Homo sapiens: one gene and its partners. The protein of the gene in region 3 purifies or fractionates together with the protein of the main gene of each other region. This does not show direct contact. Each region holds a gene or a part of one and is shown on either strand. Other genes may lie near its edges.

Region 1 (3,521 bases), on a different chromosome or scaffold from region 3:
TAGATTAACACACTCTTTGTCTTGTGGGAAATAAAAGAAGTGTAAAACAAGGACATATCACAGGATATATAGTGTAATTGGAGAGATATTAATGATTAATTAGCCATATAACTTTTGAGTAGTTCTATACATTTTACAGTATGTTGAAATCTTGTTAGTTTGTTAAAATAATTTTCTGTAAGCGGCTTTATTCCTTCTATCAGGTTGTCTCTCTTCAATTCCCTTGCTACTAAAGGCAGCACTTTTGGTTTCCACATATGGCATTCTTTCTTGTTGTTATTGATAAAAATATAGTTGGTAAAAGTTTAGTAATTTAAATAACAATAGCTAACACTTAACGTAGCATTTAGTATGTCAGGCATAGGTACAGTAGAAGCCCCTTTTGGTCTGTGTCACCGTTCCTTTCTTTTCCTCATTAGAGAAAACCAGTATTATTCACTTATTTTATATGCTTTCAGCTCATATTTTATATTATGTATGTTTATAGTTTACATAAATGAAACACTCCGTACACCATCTGAGCTTTTACCACTCACTAGCCATGTGACTTTACACAATTTATATTCTGTGTGCCTCTGTTTCCTTATCTATGAAATGGGGATTATAATATTACTTTTCTTATAGGATTTTTGTAAGGTTAAATGACAAATTACATATGAAGCACTTAAGACAATGCCTAATACATAGTAAGTGCTTCAGAAATATATCGTTGCTATTATTATTTGATTCTCTTTTTTTAGCCAACAATATTTTTGAGCCATATTCATTATAAATCCATTTCATTGGTTTTAATTGGTAGATAGTACTCCTTCCCATCAATAAATCTCTTTTTATTTTTCCGTTATCCTGTTCATGGACATTTAGATCATTTTCAGTTTTTTGCTGTTACAAAAAATGCTTCATGAACATATTTGTTCATGTATTCTTGTGCACATGTGCTGAAAGTTTACATTATAAATCTAGACTTGTAATTGCTGGATTATAGAGTATGTACATTTTGAACTCCAGTTAAATTTACTTCTTTTTTTGGGATATTAATTATTAAATTGTTGGGCTGTATATAAACATGTGACCACCACTCTGTTCATGGTAGATGTGGAATTTTGAGGTAAAAATTTAAGGATATTGCTAAAGTTATTAATACATATTGTCAAATTGCTTTCCAAAAGGATATATATTATTATATTCCTACCTGAAAGTGTTGGGTGGTTTCTTTTTACTTGCACCAGTATTGAATTATGTCTTTCTTTAATTTGTCAATGTGGTATGTGAAAAATACTCTATTATGTTTATTTGTACTTCTTGTTTACTGTTGAACCCTTTCTCCCTTATGCTTATTTCATCAATTTGCCTTTTTTCCATGAAATTCTGCTATCTGACCTTTATGTTTTTATTGGGAAGTCAAAGTTATTTTCTTACTGATTTTCAGGGCTTGTATTTGATATTTTTTCAATTCTTTGCAACTATTTTCTTCAGCTTTTTAAAATTGTAATAATTATTTTGAAGTATATTATTTGTAACCTCTAATGTATTGTCCTTTACTATTCTGTATTCTTAGTTTTACCTTTAATGATTTTGCCCATATACACTATTTTTTACTAAAAGGTATGAAATAAAGCTCTAACTTGAATAATCTGTAAAATCATAAATTTTCTCAGCAATTTATTGACTTCCTTTACAATTACTTGGTGATTTTTTTTCATCATACATTAAGTTTGGGTGTGTGTACATATAGATATGTCTGTGTACTATTACTCTATTTCTAAACTATTCATCTGCTCTTCTAAACTATCTGTTAGCATTATTATGCAAATAAAATGTTGGCTTAATTTTTGTAATTTTCTTGTGCAATTACTTCCCAGCCCTCTTTGCCATCATTATTATTATTTTAAATTATATATTTTTACCTGTGCTCCTCTAGGTTGTAATAGCATATTTTAAATTATAACTGTCAGTGATATAAACCAAAAAATTATTAAGATTTTGATAAAATTGCAATTTAAATAAGAAAGAATTTGCTGTTTAAAATATGCTTTCTTTCTACTCATAAACATAACATATCTGTGCATTTATTCAAGTTTCTCCTTAGATTTTCCAGTTATCCTTCTATATGTCCTACACATATCTTTCTGGTCTTTGCTTACGTTTTAAGTTGAAATGTATGTGTTTTTAGTTGTATGCATTTGAAATTAAAATTGCACGTGTATCATCATAGCCAGTAACATTAAGATCTTTACTATGTCTAAATTGGCTTCACCTACTCATATCTGAGGATTAAGCCTTTGGAAAGACAGTTTTTATAACTTTTCTGATGTATTCACTATACTGACCAGTAGCATTTTCATTAATGGCTTCAGATTAATCTAATGAAAATGACTTTGGCACTAAGCACAATTTTGACTACAACTAGGGTATTCTCATAGGCTGATCATTGTTAGGCCTTGTTATGGGACTGAAAGAAATAGCAGCCTATTTCAAAACATTTTGTGCACAAAAAATTAACCCTCCAAGATTTTTAAAAGATTATTTATGTGTTTATTTTATCTGATTATAAAAGTATTACAGGCTCCATTTAGAACATATTTTAAATGACAACATACACAAATATTACACCAGATACTAATAAGAGTGCTTAATTATTATTAACACGTTGTGTTAAATTCTGTATATGTTCCCCTTCCTAGTTGAGATCATGCTATATATCAATTTGATTTTCTGCTTTTTAAATTTAACATTGACAAACCTTTCAGTGTCACCATATTGTCTTTTTAATGACTATTTTAATGCCTACATATTTTATTTGTATATTAATATGCTGGCATTTGCTTAAACTTCTTGTTATATTTTTAGGTTTTATTTTCGTATTGCTTATCCTCATATGTTCTTCATGATAATAAGTAATTTCAGTAAGCATCAATTTATAAATATTGGCACAGGTCTTCTCTTTCACTCTGTTTTCACCAGTACTGCGTAATGCGGTACCCTGAGAAATAATTCAAGCAAGAATAGAAAATAATAGAAATGTTTCAAGTAAGAATAGAAAAGTTCAAGTAAGAATAGAAAAGTTCAAGTAAGAATAGAAAAGAATAGAAAAATACTTCTATTCAAGTAAGAATAGAAAAGAAATAGGGAGGTAGGTGGTCCATCATTTCAGTAAGTCATGTTTTTATTCCCCTAGAAGTTTTGATTATTTTTCAGCCCTATCTTATGTTTAAAAGTGCTTTGATAGCTATATATTGTGTGTGTTCATAATAAGAGGATTACATGTGTATTAGTCAGAAGTTATAATTTTTAAAAGTAATTATTTTCAGTACTGTAACTCAAGATATTTAAGTTGTTGATTAATAGATATTCTTAGTTCTGTTTTAATGAACAGATAACTATTATAACCATCATTGGTAAAGAACATGGTAATTTCTTCTATCTAAAATCCATATTATTAAGTATTTAGATTGGGGGGAGATTTATTCTCTAAATTATAAATTCTCTGTAAGTTTTCTTTATGAAATTCTATACTTTCT
Region 2 (3,521 bases), on a different chromosome or scaffold from region 3:
TGGAGTATAGTGGTGCAATCTTGGCTCATTGCAACCCCCGCCGACCCCCTCCTGGGGTTCAAGTGATTCTTGAGCCTCAGACTCCCGGGTAGCTGGGATTACAGGCTTGCACCACTACGCCCAGCTAATTTTTGTATTTTTAGTAGAGATGAGGTTTCACCATGTCGGCCAGGCTGGTCTCAAACTCCTGGCCTCATGTGATCTGCCTGCCTCAGCCTCCCAAAGTGCTGGGATTACAGGGGTAAGCCACCACACCTGGCCTAAGATTGCCCTCTTTATAGATTACTCCTTTTTAACCTTTTAACCAATATATTATTTGGCTTTGGCTGCTTTCAGAGGTCGGGAATGCAGGTATTTGCCCTTATCAGTGTTTATGTTTGTAAATATGTTGGTAGCCTAAGAGGTTGAAATTAATGATTCATGAATCCAGCTTGTAATTATGATATTCATAATTTTTAAGGATCTTTTCACTTGCCTCCTCTTTTGAAAACTTAAAATTTATATTCTATAAAGTGAGCTAAGCAAATAAATATATAGTCCACTTTGGGCTGTTTCAGGGATTACTAAGTCGATAATTGTTTGCATTTCTTGGTTTTTGTTTGCTTAGAGTCCCCTTGCTCCCATCCTGGGGAGTCTTAAGCATCCAAGCATAGCTTTCTAGGATATCTTTTATACCAGAAGACCATTTTCCCCTAAGAAAGCTTTCAGAGCTTTTAGTAAAATTAGGGAGACTTGTGGAAACATCTGTTTGAGCCTAGACATGGAAATTAATTACAATTCTAACCTGTCTCTAAAAGTTTTGCTTTTTTTATTTAAAAAATTTTGTTTTGCTTTAGTTTGTTTTAAAAATAACACTAGATTGGGAATCAGAAGACGTGGATTCTACTCATGGTTCTTCTAACTGTTGTATGGTTTGGGGTAAGTCCTGGCCTTCGTTTCTTTGTCTGTCAAAATGGGAACAGGTAGAAAATTCTCTAAATTCTTCCAAGCTCTAACATTCTAAGATAGCTCCTCACATATTTCAATGTCAGTCTTTTCTCATCTTGTGGAATCTCAGTTCAAAAAGTATCTGCCTTTTATGAACTTCTGATTTTCTCCCAAGTGTGTTTGTGGCAGCTTTAAAGTTTCCCAGGTTTGGTAAACACATCCTGAGTTTTGTCTAAGGGTGAGGAGTCCTTTCTCCAAGAAGTTTGTCTTCTGGCATCTCCAGGAGCCTGGCTGTGGGGACACAGAACCCCTGGGGCTGTTCTCAGTGTGGTTCTTTGAGAATCCTCTTGAACTTCTTACAGGATAAAGGGAGCAATCCTTACAAAGGCCATGCTTGTCTCTTGTGAGCTGGGGCCCACCTTAGCCTTCTTCAGAGGTGTTGCTTTAGCAAATACCTTGGGTCCTCCCAGGCAAAATCCTATTTTATTGAACCCAAATAACATGTGCATCTAACAAGTTTATTTCTGAAGGGTTGGCCCAGAGTTGGGTGCAGTTGACATGGTGACCACAGACTTTCTCAAGAAAGGAAGAAAATTCCTACATGTAATCACCAGCCTCTGTATGGTTAGTCTCTGTGGAGGAGACTTGTTTTGGTGTCTAAGACTGGCAAGATCAGGAAAAAGGAAAGTGAGCATAAGAGAAGTCTAAAGACAGAAAGCCAGGCAGACATTCAGGTCAGCCGGGACAAATCAACCAACCAATTATTGTGAAACAATGGCCTCCAAAAGTAGGTGTGGCCTACACCCCAAGGATGAACACAATACTTTATTGAGTTGGAGTTTGGGAAAGAGAATATTGGAATTCATATTTCTTTAAATCATTCTTTTAAACTTTTAATTTTTATGTAGTTTTAGTACATCTTATTTGCTAGTACTGTGTCATCTTTTTGGCTGTATTTTTCACTGGCTGCCACCTGGCCAAATCACCACTTGGGTTATAACAGCAGCCTCTGACTGGTCTCCTTCCGTCTGACCTTGGCCCCTGCACTCTACTCTCAACGTAGCTCTCAGAGTGATGGAACTCAGAACTTGTCACTCCTGCTCAAAAACTTCCAGTTTCACCCAGGTGAAAGCTAAGGTCATTAGAGTGACCTCTGCACTCAGCTCATCCACTCAACTGTCCAGCCTTGTCTGCTGTCCACCTCTTCCTGGCTCCTTGGCTCCAGCCCCACTGGCCTCCTCCTATTTAGTGAACACACCAGCTGCGCTCCTGCCTCGGGACCCTTGCTGTTCCTGCTCCCTGTGCAGCTCCTCCCTAGATATCTGCATGGCTCACCTTTACCTCTTTCGGGTCTTTCCTCAGATGTTACCTTCTCAGTGAGTCCCTTTCTGACCACACTATTTAAAATGCCCACTCCACATTTCCTGTCTGCCTTTCTTTATTTTCCTCCACAGTGTAAATCCCTCATACCATATATTTGACTCCCCCCATTTTAAAAACCAAAACTTACATGTGGCTAAGATATAGATAACAGGACAAAGATTATTTTGTTAGTTTGGTTCATTCACTGCTGTGTCTTTAGCACTTAAAACAGGGTAAGGTGCATAGTAAATGCTCAATAAATATTTGTTAAGTGATTGAATATAAATATGTATATGTATCTGTATATGTACATGTTCAAATGTTTTTTACTCATGAAGTACTCAAACAAAGAAAAGAGAAACACTTCTATAAACAGCTTTCATTTTACACTGGGATGTCAAATTTCCATTCAAACAAAATTAAGAGAAAGTTTTCTGCCCTATGAAAAGATAAAAGATCACATATTGTCCTATTTTCTGGTTATATTTTCCCTCTTTTTAAACTGTGCTTTTGGTTGTGAGGATGGTTAGCACTGTAGGTAATTCTCAGTCGTAGGTAATTCTCAGTTCCATTTCTTTTCAGGGGAAGTATCAAGGTGACATGAGGGGACAGGAAATATTGTCCCTAAATGTTCTAAGAGTGGATCTCCCATGTATTCAAGCAATCGAGGGGTGTTTAATGAGCTCCATCTACATAGCAATGATACAGCATAGCTCTGCTGGGGCTCTCTGCTCTCCCCTTCTCCACAAAAGGGAAGGACAGGTAAGAACAGGCACAATAAAATAGAAACCAGACAGAAAGAATTGGGAACAAGGAGACAAGACAAGAATCATGCTTTACGTGATTTAATCCTAATATTTTTATGAGAGGATGGCTATCATCATTTCATTTTAAAGATGAGGAAAATGAAGCCGGGTGCGGTGGCTCATGCCTGTAATCCCAGCACTTTGGAAGGCCGAGGAAGATGGCTCACCTGAGGTCAGGAGTTCGAGACCAGCCTGGCCAGAGAGATGGCCAGAGATGGCTAGAGATGGTGAAACCCCATTTCTACTAAAAATACAAAAATTAGTCAGGTGTGGTGGCAAGCACTTGTAATCCCAGCTACTTGGGAGGCTGAGGCAGGAGAATTGCTTGAACCTGGGAGGACGAGGTTGCAGTGAGCCGAGATTGTGCCATTGCACTCCAGCCTGGGCGACAAGAGTGAAACTCTGTCTCAAAAAAAAAAAAAAAAA
Region 3 (3,521 bases):
ACAGCAGCCTCCTTTCTTCCCTAGTAGGTTGTGGGTTAGAAATTACTTTTTTTTGGGCCAGGCGTGGTGGCTCACACCTGTAATCCCAGCACTTTGGGAGGCCGAGGCGGGTGGATCACTTGAGGTCCGGAGTTCGAGACCAGCCTGACCAACATGGCGACACCCCGTCTCTACTAAAAATACAAAAAATTAGCCGGGTGTGGTGGCACACACCTGTAATTCCAGCTACTAAGGAGTCTGAGGCAGGAGAATCGCTTGAACCTGGGAGGCTGAGGTTGCAGTGAGCTGAGATTGCGCCATTTTACTCCAGCCTGGGCGACAGAGCAAGACTCCATCTCAAAAAAAAAAATTATTTTTCTTGGATAGGAGAATGCTTGAAGAAGAAAAAAAATTTTTTTAATAATTTTTAAATTATGTAGGCTCCTGGAGAACTACTCCCAGGCCCAAATTTTTGACAACCTTGAGAGTTTCCTTGTGAATTTGCTCCTGACCTAGATGATTAGGACTAAGCACTCAGGGACATTTCAAACTAATGGCATTTCTGGGCCCAGTTTTAACTACATCAGCATTCTTTGACTAGCCAAATACATTTATATCTGATACCACTTCTGGTGCCTGTTACACAAATCCATTTTTCATATTTATTCCTAAGGGTAAAAAGGCAGGGCAGGACATATTGATTCCAATACCAAGTGGTGGGATGTTGTACAGTGCCTACATATTGATTAAGTCAGACTGTACCTTTTGTATCCAAAGCGTTCACACATGATGCTTTCAAGTGATTTTTCCATTCAGGTTGCAAGTAATGAAATTCTCAGGGACCCATGCTTTCATCCTGGATATAAGAAGGTAGTGAACGTAAGTGACCTTTACAAGACCCCCTGCACCAAGAGATTTGAGATGACTCTTCCATTCCAGCAGTTTGAAATCCAGGGTATTGGAAACTATCAACAATGCCATCAAAGCATCCTGGAGCTCTTCAACACCAGTTACTGCCCTTACTCCCAGTGTGCCTTCAATGGGATTTTCTTGCCACCACTCCAGGGGGATTTTGGGGTAAGTTTGTGAAATGATGAGGTATAGGATGTCTTGTTTACAAGTTATAGAATATGTGCCTACAAAAGATTTAAATAATAGGATGCATTTTTCTCTTACATAATGTCTTGAGGTAGATGATTAGGGGTTGGTTCTTCAGCTCAACTATGTCAGAACTTGGGATCAGTTTTTTCCACTATCGTTGTGATCTTTTTGTGCTAAGGTATGTTACTGCTCCAAGCACCATATCACTAGGTCACTGCCTCCTTTTTGGCTCTAGGCAGCACCTTAAGCCCAGGTTCATCTCCTTTCTAGTCAACAATAAGAGTACTGCCTTTCCGGAATGGGGGAGGTCCCAAAGAGGTTAGCCCCAGCAGTGTGGGAAAACTGACTAGGGGGTTGTGCCCAGGGGACCTTGTGGGACAGACCTCCTACAGCCATAGAACAGCCACTCTGATTTGGCATCTCCTTTGGCCAAGTGACAGAGCAGACTTCCCAGGGCTGGGGATGCTAAATCTGCCTCTTCCTTGTCTCTGCCTGTCCCCAGGGATATCTCCCTTCAGGATGTCACGATGCTTACTGTGGGTTAAGACAAAGACAGGTTTCCTGCTAGGGAACCCAGGATGATGGGGAAGCTGATTGTCCACCTTGATCTCACTTTTTCCAGTGTACAAATTGTGAGTTTGGGGGAAATTTTCCACAAGCTTGGTGTCAGGCAGAATCGGGGGAGAGGTGACATGGATGTGGAAGTTTGATTATCTTCCCGTCTGCTTGGAGTTTTTTCACTTCTTTGTGGCCCCAGGAACTGTCTCATCTTCATATTTGATTTCTGGGATATTGCTGGTGATAATCTCAGTGCTGTACATTTGTTTCTGGTTGTCTGTGGTTGGGGGGCATGAAGCCAGCTTGCTTCCATGCCGCCATTTTGGAATCAGACATCCAAGCATCATATTTTCTTTCACATGCAAAGCCAAAGCAGGAAAGATGTTTAAGGTTTTCCTTGCACACATCTCTTGCACACACATTTTGCAGAAGTGCCAACTGACATCTTTTCAGATCCTGCTGGCCAGAACTTGGTGAAATATATACTCTAAACCAATCTGTGATAAAGAGAAATGGATTAATATAGTTAGTTTAGACTAATTATTGTTTATCACCTGAGGAGTCGTTTTTGAGGATATTGCTTTCCTCTACTTGGGTAAAATCAGGACTTCATAAGCGAGGAAGAAGGGGGCTAGCTATGGGGTATGTGCCTGTTAGAGTTTGCCATAGGTGGCTTCTCAAATGTTAGAAGGAGGAGGAGCAGCAGTTAGATGACACAGCTGAGGGTTTTCCTCTATAAAGACATTTAGGAAGTAGAAACTCAGGAAATCCCAAAGAAACATTGAAGATAACATCATTGTCATTATGTTTTGAAGAGTTGGGGGATTATTTGAATCCTAGCTCCAAATTCCTTATTTTCTTAATAACTCCAGAATAAGATAAAATATTTGAGCAGAGGCAGAAGAGATGGCTCTTAATTGACTCAGTCTTCAAATTTCTTATTTTGGTCCCAGAGGCTGAGCATTATTATAATCATAGTTTAGTAGCATATTGAAAAATTAGCTACCATCTGTCAAATGCCAATTATTGACTATGCACTATATGTATATTATCTCATTTATTCATTCAAGATATTCAAAGAAACAAGGCTTTTGCCTGCCTTCATGCTTTCTCCCTTTTCAGAAAACAGATCAGCATGTAAGAAGGGAGGTTCAGCTCCTCCCCTCCAGGACCCCAGCAAGAGAGTTTCTCCTAAGGTCACCTGGCTTGGCCCAAGACAAAGCTCTAGAAGAGAACATAGGCACTGTCGTAATCAGATCTGATTCTACTTCTGGCTTCTTATGAACTGTATGAGCTCTTCATTTTCTTGGTCTCTGAGAAAACAATAGGTAATGCCATAGATCCAGACTTACCTTAACCATGGTCCAAACCACAGTCTACCCTCCCCTCAAGGTTCCTGAGGGAAATACATGACAAGACAATGACTGGCAGAGTAATATTTGGTTATTAGTTGGCTGCAAACCCAAATTCAGAAGAAACTGAACCTCACTTGAATGCCCTGTGGCTGAGCTGGCACTGGCTCTTCACCTTGGACTTTTTTTTGGGCCAGGGCCCTTGCCTTAGATTGAACTCCTTGAAGAGGAAGGAGGGTGCCACCTTGGCCAAGGGCCTTTTTCATTCCAGTCACTGCGAGGATGTAAATCTAAAGTCAATGAACATACCCTTGTGTCTTGAGTTTGTAACTTCTCAGAAAGTTTCACTTCCTGGGAAACATGGCCAATTCCTGCCTTCAAGCTTGAGCAAACCTTTCCTCCTTAGGGGACTGAAATTTCTTGCCTTTGAATGTGATTCATCCAACCAAAGCAGGGAGAGATAGGGGCTGGAAAAGGGTGGAGGAGTCTTGAACTCCCCCTGGAGGCTTTTCTATTTGATCCCTTAGTTCC
Region 4 (3,521 bases), on a different chromosome or scaffold from region 3:
ATCACAGCTAGTGATTTTACTAAAATATTTGTTTTTACTTTTTATTCATCAGGAAATTGAACTGAGCATCATTCTAGAAAAGCATTTTAAATGTTGGAACAAAGGTTTACCTCATATACACTATTAATTTAAGGGTTATTTAGGCATTTAAAATCTTTGTGACAAAGTAATGATTTCTCATTAATTAAAGAAAAAGTGGATAGGAGATGGTGTGGCATGCCTCTGGGTTTACATTTGAAGTTACAAAAGTAGTGCTTTAAGCAGTAATAAGACTAAAAATGAATTGTATTCACTTACAGTTTTTACTCTTTCTAAACTTGTATTTTAAGATTTGTTGAGTTCTTTTAGTGTTTATTATTATTGTTATTATTTGTATTTTAGTAGAGACAGAGTTTCATCATGTTGCCCTGGCTGGTCTCGAACTCCTGAGTTCAGGCAATCTGCCCGCCTCTGCCTCCCAAAGTGCTAGGCATCAGCCACTGCGCCCAGCCAAAATTTTTTAAATAGAATTTGTTACTGATTTTATAACTTTCTGAATGGAAGTATAATCTAGCTTATTTGTATAATTTTAAGAGTTGATTAATGAACGTAGAAATGAGAAACTGACCTTCTAAAATGCTATAGGGTTAAAAGATCATATGGCTTATTTGGCTTTTTTAGGCAGTAGAAGAACTGTTTAACCTGATGCAGCTGTTTATAGCTCAGAGGCCAGATATGAGAGAAGAAGAATTAGAAGATATTAAACAGTTCAAGAAAACAACCATAAGTTGTTACTTACGTTGCTTAGATGGCCGCTCCTGCTGGACTACTTTAATAAGGTAAAAAGATGTTTTTAGTTTTGTCTTGTTTATTTCCAGTGAGATGAGGACCATCCTTTTGATGTTTAAAGATAAATCATTTACATTGGGGAAGCATTTGTGCATGTAGCCACTTTGGAACATTTTGAAGGTTCATGAACTACTTTTAAACAGTTTTTGGTCTGGCTTTGGTTTGTATTTGTGTATGTTTTATCATTTTAGGGTTGAAGGGAACCTTTATGTATAGCCTTCTACCCAAAGCTTGAATAGTCTTGTTTATGGCAATTTATCCTAACTCAGGCTTGATAGTTCAGTTCTAGAGGCCTCCAGGAAGTTTTCTGCACCTTTGGATGAGTCTGTTAATATTTTGCATTCTGTTTAGCCCAAATATATCTATCTGGCTTTCTGATCTATATGACTTGGCCAAAATTATAAAACATAGTCTTTATAATTAATTTTCAGAGCTACAGAAGTTATTGAATGGTTACAGGAACTACTACAAATTACCCTTAATTCCCCTTAACCTAGAGAAATAAAGTTCAGGCTAATTTCTTAAATTCTTCTATGTATTACATCTAAGACTTGGAAGTGTTGTTTTTTATTAGGCACATTTTTTTTAATGGTACTTTACTGAAGACTTCACTGTAATATCTTAAGCTACTCAATCTAAGATGAGGTTATTTCAGATTGTCTTCTTTGGAAAGCTTTCAAATGTGAGTCTTCATTAGTAAACAGGGAAATTAACTACGCCTTTGCCGGATTTCTTAAAGGGATTGTTTTTAAATTTTGGATTAATTTTGAATACAATTGTTTTCCCAAAGTTTACTACTTAAAGCTTTATTTCAAAAAAGATTTAGAGCAGCCTGGGCAACATAGTAAAACCCCATCTCTATATAAATAAATAAGTTAGCAAATAAATTAGGGTGTGACGGCATGCACCTGTAGTCCCAGCTCCTCGGGGGGCTGAGGTGGGAAGATCCTTGAGCCCAAAAGGTGGAAGCTGCAGTGAGCCATGATTGTGCCATTGTACTCCAGCCTGGGTGACAGAGCGAGTCTCAAAAAAAGAAAAAAAAGATTTGGAGCTTTCTTAACTCTTCTTGAAAAAGGAAAGGAATAAAGTAGAAGGATTTCCAGTTGTAGTCTATAACAACATTTTTCTGGTATCTAATGAAAGAAGACCTGTTAACAGTAATATAGCTGTGTGAGTAATTATAGTCATGTGTTGCATAACAACAGGGTTACATTCTGAGAAATAAATTTTTAGCCTATTTCATCATTGTGCAAACATCAGAGTGACTACTCACACACAACTAGATAGTAGCGCCTGCTACACCCCTAGGATATATGGTATAGCCAACTGTTCCTAGGCTCTAAATCTGTATAGCATGTTACTACACTGAATACTGTAGGCAATTATAACAGAAAGGTAAGTATTTGTGTATCTAAACGTATTTAAACATAGAAAAGGTACAGTAAAAATATGGAATAAAAGACAGAAAATGGTACACTTGTGTAGGGCACTTACCATGAATGGTGCTTGCAAGACTGGAAATTGCCCTAGGTAAGCCAGTGAATGAGTGGTGAGGGAATGTGAAGGCCTGGGACATTATTGTACCCTACTATAGACTTTATAAACACTGTACACTTAAGCTACACTAAATTTATTTTAAAATACTTTTTCTTCATTATTAATGTACTGAACTTTTTTTACTTTATAAGTTTTTTTAACTTCTTGATTCTTCTATCGTAGCACTTAAAACACACTATCATAACACTTAAAACACACATTTTATAGCTGAACAAAAGTATTTATATCTTTATAAGCTTTTCATATTTAAATTTTTTTTCTTTTTAAATGTTTTCGTTAAAAACTAAGACATAAACACACACAATTAGGCTAGGCCTAGCAGGGTTGGGATCATCAGTATCTCTGTCTCCCACCTCCACATCTTGTCCCACTTGGGAGGTCTTCAGAGGCAGTAACTAGCTTAGAGCTGTCATCTCCTCTGACAATGATGCCTTCTTCTGGAATCCCTCCTGTAGGGCCTGTCTAAGGCTGTTTTACATTTAACTTTTTTTGAAATAAGTAGTAAAATAATGATAATATAGTAAATACATAAACCAGTAACATAGTCATTTATTAACATTATCAAGTATTAGGTACTGTACATAATTGTGGTATACTTACAAGACTGGCAGTACAACAAGTTTGTTTATACCAGCGTCATCAGAGACATGTGGGTAATGCATTGTGAATGTTACCATGGCTATGAAGTCACTAGGCTAATAGGAATTTATCAGCTCCATTATAATCTTATGGGACCACCATTGTGTTTGTGATCCATCATTTACCACAATTTCATTTTGTGGCACATGACTGTATTTTATAAACTATTTTCAAGGCTGACACGTTTTTAGTATTTTTTTCCTTCATGTTACTCTTTTTTAATTACCAGCTGATGAGTGTTTAGATAATATGGTGAATTTTATGATTATCCAGAATTTAACAATCAGAAGATGAGCCTATTATAAAAATCAACATTGTTTATGTGGAAACTTTAAAAATATTCCCATATCTTCTGCCATTGTAGATAATTAGCAGTTGATTAGATATTAATAGACTTTTTTTTAGTTAGAGTTTATTTAATATTATTTCCTTATGCTGCATTTCCAGGAAACAGATGAAGCAGTCTCTTTTCTGTAGGTAGGAAAGCAGAGAGCTTA
Region 5 (3,339 bases), on a different chromosome or scaffold from region 3:
CCCTTTTCCAGACTGGCCAGTCCTAGAAGAACATCTAGTGGTACAGCTTCTATACTTAGTGACTATGGGTTCTAGCAGGGGATAGACCATCCTTTGTACAGGTTGTACAGATTGAAGTACCATCTGTGGCTTGACTACTTCAAAATCCAGTTCAAGACATGATTTCAGATTGATAAGACAAGTTATAGGATTGGAGTTGAATTGAAAATTTGCATTGAATTTACATTTTTTTTAATTCCTAAGGGGTAGTTTGGTTCATCAGGACTACTTCATTTCAATTAGGTATACTCAGCAGCACTAAGCAAAATCAAAGCCTATAAGGAAATCTATAGTATATATTAAAGGAATAAAAGAAAAACCAAAATTAAAGTACCATGTACTTTTAAAAACTAACTGAGAAGGTAACAACTGATTAAAAAAAAAAAAGCCAATGTATTGAGAAGTTTTCTTGACTGATGGTGATATTGCCATATAAGTGTATATGTTAGAAAAAGATGACCTCAAGTTTTTTGTTACATCTTTTCTGTAGACCTAGGTATTCTCATTCATTCATTCATTATTGTTGAGCACTTGCTATTTGAATACTGATTTTTTACAAATGTCTTTCCACTTCAAGAGCAAGTATAAAGTTAGGTAAAATATCTTTTAATGTGTCATTTTAATTGGTATTCTCAGTATGATGATGCCAAAAATTCATATTTGTTTCTAGAAGGAACCCTAGACTTATAGAATTCCTTATGATATAAAATATAAAGAATTTTTTTCTGAATAAATAGGGCAAATTTGAAATATGGGCCAAAAAATGTACAATAAGTGGTCAGTGGAGGATTCTAACATCAATAATTGAATTACAAAAATATTTTCACATTGCCCTTTTATCCCCAAGTAATGCTCTCCTTCTTAGAAGCCATGTGAATGTCTGAATAGATGCTTCTCTAAAACAAACCAGTTCGATAACAGACATTTTTTAACTTGTTTTATTTTAATATAGTCAACAGCTGCTCAGTATCAGGAAGGATTTACAATAAAGGAATCACAAGTTTAAATAATGATAAGCCCTCTTTTAGTTATTTTTACAAAGACATTAAAAAGACTAAAAGCACAATATTCTTACACATACATGCATATAGACACAAATACAAGAAAAATTGGGGAAATCTGAACAAAATCACTGGATTATGTTAATGTCAATATCCTAGTAGTAATAAGTACCGTAGTTTTGAAAAATGCTACCTTTGGAGGAAACTGGGTAAATGGTCCACAGAATGTCTCTGTATTATTTCCTGCAACTGCATTGGATCTAGAATTAATCTCAACATTAAAAGGTTAATTTTCGTCTAAAAGCACACTATTTCTTAATTGATCATTGCATTTCACATAAACTCCTCCTTTATTGTTTCTTTTCTCTTTTTATTTAGGCATGGAATTTCTTATCTCACTTGCCAGTGATAAATGTTGGCATAAGTGTTAAAGGCTCGTGGGATGACTTAGTTGAAGGACATAATGAACTCTCTGTCTCAACTCTGACTGCAGACAAACGAGATGACAACAAATGGATCAAATTGCATGCTGACCAAGAGTATGTGCTTCAAGTGAGCTTGCAGAGAGTCCACTTTGGGTTCCACAAGGTATAGTGTTTGGTTTCCATTCTCAAATATTTCACACCAAATACCAGCATGCACCACCACACATATCTGTTATGTGACTAATGTGCCCGTGTCATTCATGAATCCTGCTTTCTCAACTGGTCTTAAGCAGCGAGAGTTAGTCTTTTGAAATTCGTGAGTTCTCCTCATGTGTCATTTTTCAGCCCCAGAAAATCTACCTTACATAAGAATATATTGCCTAGAGTACTATTCTCAAAGTATGGTATACAGACTCTGGCCAGCAGAATTTCCTGGAGTGCCTTTTAAAGTGCAGATTCCTTGGCCCCACTCCAGACTGGCTGAATCAGAACCTCAAGGAGGCGGGAATCTCAAAATCTATACCTTCACTCAGTGCCCCACATGATTTTTAAGGGCCTTAAAGCTTGAGCAGTACTGGCCTAGAGGCACTTTGGTATACAGGAACCACATTGGGCTAGATGTAGATGAGACTGAAGCTTTACCACTTAGCTCTATGAATTTGAATAAGACATTAAGCTTTTCTGAGCCTCAGTTGCCACATTTGCCTGCGTCCTTCATTATAATGCATAGGAGAGCTTTGTCAATGTTCATACAGGCAAAAATGTACAGTATTTTTATTTTAGATTACTATGCTCTTTTCTGTTGCCTCTGATTATCTGGTCCTCTAAGAATATTAGTACACAGCAGGTGGGCAGATTGGTTTTTAGTGCCATAATAATTAAAATAAGAAAGAATTAGTCTTCTTTTTGGTCCAGTGGATTCAGGGCTTTCCCATATCTAGAATAAGCCCTCAGGGGTGAAGCTGTAGTTCATAAGTATTGTCCCTTCTGTTCTCACACACAAAATGATCAGTAACTTTCTATTCTTAAGATGTTCTTTCAGTATTGTACCTTCAAGTCTCACCTCATTTGATTTCTAATTCTAAAAAAGTCTGTCAGTGTAAGTATTAACTGATTGGCCTCTGGCATTTCAGAGGCTTTAGTATGAGCTTTTTTTTTTGATACGAAGTCTCACTGTGTCGCCCAGACTTGGCTCACTGCAACCTCCACCTCCTGGGTTCAAGCATTTCTCCTGCTTCAGCCTCCCAAATAGCTGGGTTTTACAGGCATGTGCCACTACACTCAACTAATTTTTTGTATTTTTAGTAGAGATAGGGTTTCACCATGTTGACCAGCTCATCTTGAACTCCTGACCTCAAATGATCCACCTGCCTCTGCCTCCCAAAGTTCTGGGATTACCAGCATGAGCCACCACACCTGACCTTAATATGAGGTTTCATTTGTTTGTTTGTTTGAGATGGAATTTCACTTATGTTATCCAGGCTGGAGTACAAGGGTGCAACATCAGCTCCCTGCAACCTCCGCCTCCCGGGTTTAAGCAATTCTCCTTCCTCAGCATCCCGAGTAACTGGGATTACAGGTGCCTGCCACCATACCCAGCTAATTTTTTGTATTATGTTGGCCAGGCTGGTCTCAAACTCCTGACCTCAGGTGATCCACCTGCCTTGGCCTCCCAAAGTGTTGGGATTACAGGCGTGACCCACTGCACCTGGCAATATGAGCATTTTTTAGATGACTTAATGTATTCCAACTTATAAAAAAAAGTAATAATTACAAACTAATAATAGTAATAATAAAAATAGCAACAATCATAAAGATAAAATCATGGGGGAAAACTATGATTTTTTTACCTTAATATTCTACTTAAAGCTTAG

The links.
Region 1: the proteins of ENTPD1 (region 3) and ANKRD50 purify together in Homo sapiens (affinity purification with mass spectrometry; one large-scale study listed by BioGRID and IntAct). This does not show direct contact.
Region 2: the proteins of ENTPD1 (region 3) and ANKRD44 purify together in Homo sapiens (affinity purification with mass spectrometry; one large-scale study listed by BioGRID and IntAct). This does not show direct contact.
Region 4: the proteins of ENTPD1 (region 3) and USP34 purify together in Homo sapiens (affinity purification with mass spectrometry; one large-scale study listed by BioGRID and IntAct). This does not show direct contact.
Region 5: the proteins of ENTPD1 (region 3) and ASCC3 purify together in Homo sapiens (affinity purification with mass spectrometry; one large-scale study listed by BioGRID and IntAct). This does not show direct contact.

What each region holds. Positions count from the first base shown.
Region 1 is NC_000004.12:124,674,720-124,678,240, reverse strand, and holds part of ANKRD50 (ankyrin repeat domain-containing protein 50), read left to right. Parts: intron 1-3,521.
Region 2 is NC_000002.12:197,300,764-197,304,284, reverse strand, and holds part of ANKRD44 (serine/threonine-protein phosphatase 6 regulatory ankyrin repeat subunit B), read left to right. Parts: intron 1-1,765; exon of another isoform or gene 1,766-2,052; intron 2,053-2,871; exon of another isoform or gene 2,872-3,322; intron 3,323-3,521. UniProt on the Homo sapiens protein: Putative regulatory subunit of protein phosphatase 6 (PP6) that may be involved in the recognition of phosphoprotein substrates.
Region 3 is NC_000010.11:95,846,651-95,850,171, forward strand, and holds part of ENTPD1 (ectonucleoside triphosphate diphosphohydrolase 1), read left to right. Parts: exon of another isoform or gene 1-86; intron 87-741; exon of another isoform or gene 742-795; coding exon 796-1,056; intron 1,057-2,760; coding exon of another isoform or gene 2,761-2,922; exon of another isoform or gene 2,923-3,521.
Region 4 is NC_000002.12:61,209,069-61,212,589, reverse strand, and holds part of USP34 (ubiquitin carboxyl-terminal hydrolase 34), read left to right. Parts: intron 1-660; coding exon 661-818; intron 819-3,521. UniProt on the Homo sapiens protein: Ubiquitin hydrolase that can remove conjugated ubiquitin from AXIN1 and AXIN2, thereby acting as a regulator of Wnt signaling pathway.
Region 5 is NC_000006.12:100,510,998-100,514,336, reverse strand, and holds part of ASCC3 (activating signal cointegrator 1 complex subunit 3), read left to right. Parts: intron 1-1,418; coding exon 1,419-1,628; intron 1,629-3,339. UniProt on the Homo sapiens protein: ATPase involved both in DNA repair and rescue of stalled ribosomes. 3'-5' DNA helicase involved in repair of alkylated DNA: promotes DNA unwinding to generate single-stranded substrate needed for ALKBH3, enabling ALKBH3 to process alkylated N3-methylcytosine (3mC) within double-stranded regions.